2 linked regions of the Homo sapiens genome follow. The protein of the gene in region 1 interacts with the protein of each later gene in a pairwise test. Each region holds a gene or a part of one and is shown on either strand. Other genes may lie near its edges.

Region 1 (3,813 bases):
CTTTTGAGACTGAAGAGATTTTATGTTTTTTTCGCCACATAGAAAGTTCGTCGCTGCTTCCTGTGCTCCAGGAGAGGACATCTCCTGTATTCCTGTCCAGCCCCCCTTTGCGAATACTGTCCTGTGCCTAAGATGTTGGACCACTCATGTCTTTTCAGACATTCCTGGGATAAACAGTGTGACCGATGTCATATGCTAGGCCACTATACAGATGTGAGTATCCTGCATATAACTAATTTGTCAGGCTTTGGAGGGAGTGTGCAAGTTTGTAATTAATGTGCAAGTTTATAACTATCAGTCAGCATACCTAAAGGAATGTTTACTCCGTGAGATATATATATATATATATAGTCATGTCCATTTTGTCACTGAACATGTATATAAAGCAGTGCTCTAAATAATATAGGGGTAAGGAGCCTACTGAATCAGAAGACAGCATCAAGAGATAGCATTAATAAATATTTTAAGCCCATTCTAGCCCTTTTTCTTTATAAGCTTGTTAAATAAAGGCTGAATTTAAAGAGGTAATAAATAACATGTAAAATTTGTGTATTCATATTTATTTATTTATTTATTTATTTTTTGAGACATAGTCTCACTCTGTCACCCAGGCTGGAGTGCGGTGGTGCAATCTCGGCTCATTGCAACTTCTGCCTCCCGGGTTCCAGCGATTCTCCTGCCTCAGCCTCCCGAGTAGCTGGGGCTACAGGAGCATGCCAACACTCCTGGCTAATTTTTGTATTTTTAGTAGAGACGGGGGTTTCACCATGTTGGCCATGCTGGTCTCGAACTCCTGACCTTAGGTGATCTGCCCGCCTCAGCCTCCTAAAGTGCTGGGATTGCAGGCGTGAGCCACTGCACCTGGCCTATTTGTGCATATTTAAATGAAAATATATGCACAATTAGCAGTTATATACAGATGTTTAATGGAAGCCTATTTTGATGCTTCTTTTTTTATTTTTATTTTATTTATTTATTTTTTGAGATGGAGTCTCGCTCTGTTGCCCAGGCTGGAGTGCAGTGGCGTGATCTCAGCTAACTGCAACCTCCAACTCCTGGGTTCAAGCGATTCTCCTGCCTCAGCCTCCCGAGTAGCTGGGATTACAGGCACGTGCCACCACACCTGGCTAATTTTTTATTTTTAGTAGATACGGGGTTTCACCACGTTGGCCAGGATGGTCTCGATCTCCTGACCTCATGATCCGCCCGCCTCGGCCTCCCAAAGTGCTGGGATTACAGGCATGAGCCACTGTACCCGACCTTTTTTTTTTTTTTTTTTTTTTTTTTTTTTTTTTTTTTTTTTGGAGACAGGGTCTCGCTCTGTCACGGTGGCTAGAGTGCAGTGGCATGATCTTGGCTCACTGCAACCTCTGCCTCCCAGGTTCAAGTGATTCTCCTGCCTCAGCCTCCCAAGTAGCTGGGATTACAGGCGCCCACCACCATGCCTGGCTAATTTTTGTATATTTAGTAGACAGCAGGGTTTCACCATGGTCAAGCTGGTCTCGAACTCCTGACCTCAGGTGATCCACCCATTTCAGCCTCCCAAAGTGCTAGGATTACAGGTGTGAGCCACCACACCTGGCCTGATTCTTCTTATCAATGATTTTGCTGGTCTAATAGTCTAAGGAAAGAAGGACAAGGCAGCCATTACTTTAAATTGCAGCATATTAAAAATGCTGTTTTGGACACTATTTGCATTGTATTGTTGTAAATGTATATGGAGTTTAGTCATAATTTCAAAGACCAGAGGGCTGTTGAAATAAGCAAATACAGCTTTGATGTGGAATATGTAGTTTTCTACATTCAGTTTACCCTAATTCCTAATGAGTGTCTCATTAAGAGTCTTTCATTTTAGGTCTTAATTGCGTTTCTTACTACATAGTAACATATGTTTATTTTATATTAACAGCTAATCAGTACAAAGTCATTTTTCATCCTCATACCTAAGTGGCAATTCTAATTGATTTAAGGGGTATTTATGAAAGGGGTGTCTCTCATTCTCTTTTTTAAAGCATTACTTACCTATTTTTTAAAATAATAAAAGTACTTTAATATGTACTTCCCCAAAGTCATGATACGAAAGCAGAAATATTTTTCTAATTTTATTTATATTGAAATACACCTATAGTCTTTTTTCTTACAGCCCTTTTTAATGCATGTCTGAAATACACCTATAATCTTTTGCTCAATAAATTAGTATGGCTTTCTGTTGAAATGAATTTCAGATTAAAACAGATTAGAGTATGAGTGTTTGGTATATATATGTATTTCTCATGTAAATAACATGACAATTATTTATTGTAATTCCACCAGCAAATTTATACTTAAATTGTTACCCATTTTTTAAACAAACAGTGGTGCATTTAATAATGTTTTGGTAAGTCATATTTTATAAATGGAATTGTGAAATTAAAAGACGTACACTTATGTCTGGATAAGTATTGTCAAATTGCTCTTCTAAAAGATTGTACCAATGTATCTACCTACCAGCAGTGTTAAGAGAAATGAGCACTGCACTCATCAACATTAAGTATTATCAGTCTTTAAAATTTTTGGCTGGTCAGACCAAAAAATGATATTTTATTGTTTTAATTTGTATTTCTTTGGTTATTAATAAAGTGGTATATGGTTAATTAATTTGAATACTCTATTCTCAAGGCTATATAGATAGAAGTTGTCATTTCATTCCAAAGTACTTTAGTCTTATTTTTTAGTGTTTACCAAGTCTTAAAAATGATAAATCCTGAATTGTCCTAGCATTATGTTGTTGTCTGCATTAAGTTGTCAATTATAATTTTCTTAGCAAGATTTTCTAGTTTGGCAGTTATCTTTAATAGCATCTGTTTTTTTTTTACTGTTTTCTTCCAAAGAGCTCTGACAAATATGGTCTTATTTGCCTGTGATAAAGAAGGGGAGTAAGACATTATCATAGGCAATTTTTTAAAAACAAGAAACTGTACTACAGAACAGTTAAAAATTACTTGTAAAAGGTTATATAATCATCTGTGTTAATTCTATAGGCCATTCCTCTTAACTTCTTGATTTTGGCCTCTAATATATGTTAAATTATTATCTAAAATGAGAATTAATAATCCCAATGAATGTAGGTTTTTTTAAATAAGATTAAAATCATGGTATGCTCCTGTAATATCAGCTGCTCAGGAGGCTAATGCAGGAGGATCTCTTAATCCCAGGAGTTTAAAACCTGGTGGCTCACACTTGTAATCCTAGCACTTTGGGAGGCCGAGGCAGGTGGATCACGAGGTCAAGAGATCGAGACCATCCTGGCCAGCATGGTGTGAAACCCAGTCTTTACTAAAAATACAAAAATTAGCTGGGCGTGGTGGTACACACCTGTAGTCCCAGCTACTCAGGAGGCTGAAGCAGGAGAATCGCTTGAACCTGGGAGGCAGAGGTTGCAGTGAGCCAAGATCATGCCACTGCACTCCAGCCTGGCAACAGAGTGAAAGTCTGTATCCAAAAAAAAAAAAAAAAACAGCCTGGGCAACATAGTGAGAGCCTATCTCAAAAAATAAAATAAAATAGGGTTGGGCTGTGACCAGCTTCAGAGAAGGCAGTACTCTTTTCCCCAAATCTACCAGTATCTACTATATTTGTTGTAATTACATGGCGAAGGTTCTGGAAGCTGGTCTTTGTAGCCTACACACCTGGTGTAGGATTCCCTCGCAGCCCAGTCAAGCCTGGGCTCTACTGACTCCTTGTGGCAAGGCTCATAGTCCTTCCACCACCCCAGAAACTTCATGAGAATTCACATGGAAGCCGAGTCATTCTGGCCCCATGTTGTTGGAACTG
Region 2 (3,813 bases), about 99 Mb from region 1:
GGTCCTGGCTGAGCTGCCACCAGGCATAGCCCCACACTGCCCGTCACATGGCCCTGCTCGGTGGGCTGGGCTGGGTGGAGGAAGAGCAGGTGGCCAAATGCTAAGGCCTCTGATGGCTCAAGGGGTAAGGTAAGGCACGGACAGTGCCCACCTCCTGGCCGCCCAATGTCCGTCTGCTGGGCACCTGAGTCTCTGAGAAGCTCTGTGCAGGGGGTGACGGCAATGGCTGCACCCAGCTGAGGGCCAAGGGCTGGGGTGGGCAGTGTGGCCGGGTCCAGTCCTTGGCGAAGTGGCCTAATGGGACATCTTGACTCTCTTTGGAAGCTCTCACTCCCCCAGGACCTGGAGGACACCCAGCTCTCAGACAAAGGTGAGGTGGGGACAGCAGTACACCCAGAGGCCTCCCAGCTTCCCCAAGTGAGGCCCATCTTCAGCACAGGCAGCCCGTGCCGCAATGCCTGTGTCAACCCCCACAACCCCCACTCCACAGACAGGGAAACTGGGGCTGGGGATAAGTAAAATGGTCAAGGTCACCTAGAGAACAAACTACAGAGCCCAGCTGGAACCCAGGGCCCCAGCTAGTGGGACAAGTGTCCCCTGGGGTGGAGAGTGTGGGGGTCTGGGCAGCCCCCATGGGCTGCAGAGGTGAGCAGGCCCACCGTCCTGAGAGTGTGGGGCCCCTCTGGGCAGCCCCCACGGGGTGCAGAGGTGAGCAGGCCCAGTCCTGGCTGCTCCAAGCTTCCTCCTGGACAGAGGGAGGTGGTAACGAGCGAACGACCAGGTGCATGAAGCTAGAAGATGGGGCGAGATGGGGCCCCACGTGGCTTGAGGGAAAGGGCTGAATGCAGGGGTGGCCAAGGGCCTGCTGTGTCCCGGTGCAGTGGGGGTAAGGCAGTGGCAGGGGCTTCTAGCGGGCAGGGCAGGCCCCCTCTGCCTGTCTGGGGGAAGGACTGGGTGGCTAGCTGGGAGCAGCTCCCGAGTGTCCAGGAGTGGGCAGTGGTGATGAGGTAGGTGTTTGCACTGAAGGTGCTGTCAGGTAGGGGTTGGGGAGGGCCCAGCAGAGGGGTCCTGGGAGGCTGCACCGGAGTTGGACAAGCTTCCTGAGTACCAGGCCGTGGCCTCCAAGCAGAGGCGGAAGGGGAAGGAGGAGCCGCAGACGGGGAAGTGAAGACCAGCGCCTTTGGCTGCAGCTCAGAACACTTGAACATGGGGATGCCAAGCCCCCATGTAGGCACAGAGGCGAGCAGGACCCAGGAGTCCGGCTCAGGCACTGCCCCCATCCCCCTGGGTGGCTGTGGCAGGAGCAGGGGCAGGTGTGAAGGTTGGAGGGTGAGCAGGGGAGGGGCTGGCTCTAAGGGGCTGCCAATGGCCAGGACAGCCCTGGCCTGGCCCTCACCGCAGTGGGGCTGAGACTGGACGTGCGTGGTTTCTGCCCAAGGGTCCTGATCCCTGGTCTGCCCAGGTCCTGGCGGTTTCTGAGGGGGTCCAGCCGCCTGAAGGTTCTCTCCCAATTGCTGCAGTACCCCTGCCCCCACTTCAGGAGGACCCAGACAGCCACTGTAGCTGTCCCCAACTCTCTCCCCAGGGCCGCCATGCCCACAGATGCTTTGGAGTGATGGGGGACGGTGCTGCTCAGGCCCAGGGTTTAAGTTCCCCCGAGGTCTGGGAGGCGTTCCTCCCTGGCAGGCAGCCAGCTCGGGGGAGGGATGGTCACTGGCGGGAGCGTTGGGCCTGGGCTGGCATCTGGCGGCCTCCTGGAGCAATGAACAGGCAAGCGAGGCCATAAGGCCTCAGTCTCATCTACAGAAAGCAGAGTCTACACTGGACCCATGTGGGGATCCCACCAGGCCTTGGAAGACAGCCCCACTGCAATGCCGGGGAGGGGTGGGGCAGCCGTGCTATACGTGGCCCAGCAGATGGGCAGGTCCCACAGGCACGACTCTCCTTTCCAGGCTGCCTTGCCGGCGGGGGGAGCCCGAAACAGCCCTTTGCAGCTCTGCACCAGGAGCAGGTTTTGCGGAACCCCCATGTAAGGCTTCCCCGGGGTGGGGTCCTCCCAGCCGTGGGCCTCAGGGTGACCGATCACAGGGAGAGTGGCTCCCTGCCCTGGGCACCCCCTGCGGTGGCCCCGACGACAGCTGAGGAGTGACCACAAGGTCTCTGCCCACAGTGCTCGGGGTGCGGTGTCTGGGCTGCGAAGTGGATCCCCCTTTCTTGGGCACTGCAGCAGCTTGGGGGGCTTTTTGGACGTGGATGTGCCTGGTCCTGGTTTTCCGAGGGCCTTTACAGTGGATGAGGAGGTGAACACAGGAGTCCTGAGAGCAAGCACCACCTCGGGCTTTGTTGTAGAAACAATGGCCCGGACCCCAGGCTGGAGCCGTGGCTTGGCCTCCTGGGTGTGTCTTGGCATCTGAAATGCAGGCTACCCACACCGGCTCACCTCCAGGGGTACAGGCAGGTCCCACAGGGAGAGCTTGGCGCTGAGCTGAGGCTGTCTGGGCTCCTCGCCTCCCAACCAGTCTGCAGTTACAGGGGCCAGTGGGGGGCGGGTGAGAAGGACGGGTTCCCTCAGGGGAGCCGGCCGGAGCCCGAGCCTTCCCCCTTCTCCAGGACGCAGGCCTGAGCAGCGGGGAGCCGCCCGAGAAGGAGCGGCGGCGCCTCAAAGAGAGTTTTGAGAACTACCGCAGGTAGGCGGGCGGCCCCCAGGCTTCTCCAAAACGGGCTGGGGAGCGGCAGCCGGGTCGCGCCTGAGACACCTGTCTTCACAGGAAGCGCGCCCTCAGGAAGATGCAGAAAGGATGGCGGCAGGGGGAGGAGGACCGGGAGAACACCACGGGCAGCGACAACACCGACACTGAGGGCTCCTAGCCGCAGCAGCGCAGGCCCCGACCAGGGCACACCCACCGGCCCGGCCTCCTGCCACCCGGGGGTGCCGACGCCCTGGGGCGCAGACTTCCCCGAGCCGTCGCTGACTTGGCCTGGAACGAGGAATCTGGTGCCCTGAAAGGCCCAGCCGGACTGCCGGGCATTGGGGCCGTTTGTTAAGCGGCACTCATTTTGCGGAGGCCATGCGGGTGCTCACCACCCCCATGCACACGCCATCTGTGTAACTTCAGGATCTGTTCTGTTTCACCATGTAACACACAATACATGCATGCATTGTATTAGTGTTAGAAAACACAGCTGCGTAAATAAACAGCACGGGTGACCCGCATTCCCGCTCGGACACTCGCGCGCAGCCCCGCGGCCGTCCCTCCTCGCTGCGGCCCGCGGTGTCCTCGGGGTGCGAGCTGCACGTGGACGCAGGGCCCCCTCAGGCCGCCAGGGGGCGGCATAGCGCAGCGCGCCCCCGACCCGGAAGACGGAAGCCCAAGAACGCCGCTTCCGCCCGGCGCCCACTTCCAAGATGGCGGCGGGGCGGGGCCGGGGCAGGGCGGACGGAGCCGGCGAGCGGGATGCTGCGGACTGCGCTGCGCGGCGCGCCGAGGTTGCTGAGTCGCGTGCAGCCCCGGGCGCCCTGCCTGAGGCGGCTGTGGGGCCGCGGGGCCCGTCCAGAGGTCGCGGGGAGGCGGCGGGCCTGGGCCTGGGGCTGGCGGCGCTCAAGCTCCGAGCAGGGGCCGGGGCCCGCGGCGGCTCTGGGGCGCGTGGAGGCGGCGCACTACCAGCTCGTCTACACCTGCAAGGTAGGCGCGCGGCGGGACGGAACCGGGGACAGACCCGTATCTGACGCTACACGGCCTGCGGGGAGAAGCGGCCCGCCGGGGATCCGGGAGGCGGCGTGGTCAAGTCACAGGAAGGAGTGGAGCCACCCCT

The links.
Region 2: the proteins of ZCCHC7 (region 1) and CARD9 interact in binary tests that used the Homo sapiens proteins (3 or more experiments, as listed by UniProt).

What each region holds. Positions count from the first base shown.
Region 1 is NC_000009.12:37,305,502-37,309,314, forward strand, and holds part of ZCCHC7 (zinc finger CCHC domain-containing protein 7), read left to right. Parts: intron 1-42; coding exon 43-213; intron 214-3,813.
Region 2 is NC_000009.12:136,363,357-136,367,169, reverse strand, and holds the end of CARD9 (caspase recruitment domain-containing protein 9), read left to right. Parts: intron 1-324; coding exon 325-370; intron 371-1,952; coding exon 1,953-2,029; intron 2,030-2,610; coding exon 2,611-2,687; intron 2,688-2,768; coding exon 2,769-2,868; 3' UTR 2,869-3,007; coding exon of another isoform or gene 3,008-3,045; 3' UTR 3,046-3,214; downstream 3,215-3,813. Other genes in the region: DNLZ (DNL-type zinc finger protein), read left to right, coding at 3,456-3,683. UniProt on the Homo sapiens protein: Adapter protein that plays a key role in innate immune response against fungi by forming signaling complexes downstream of C-type lectin receptors.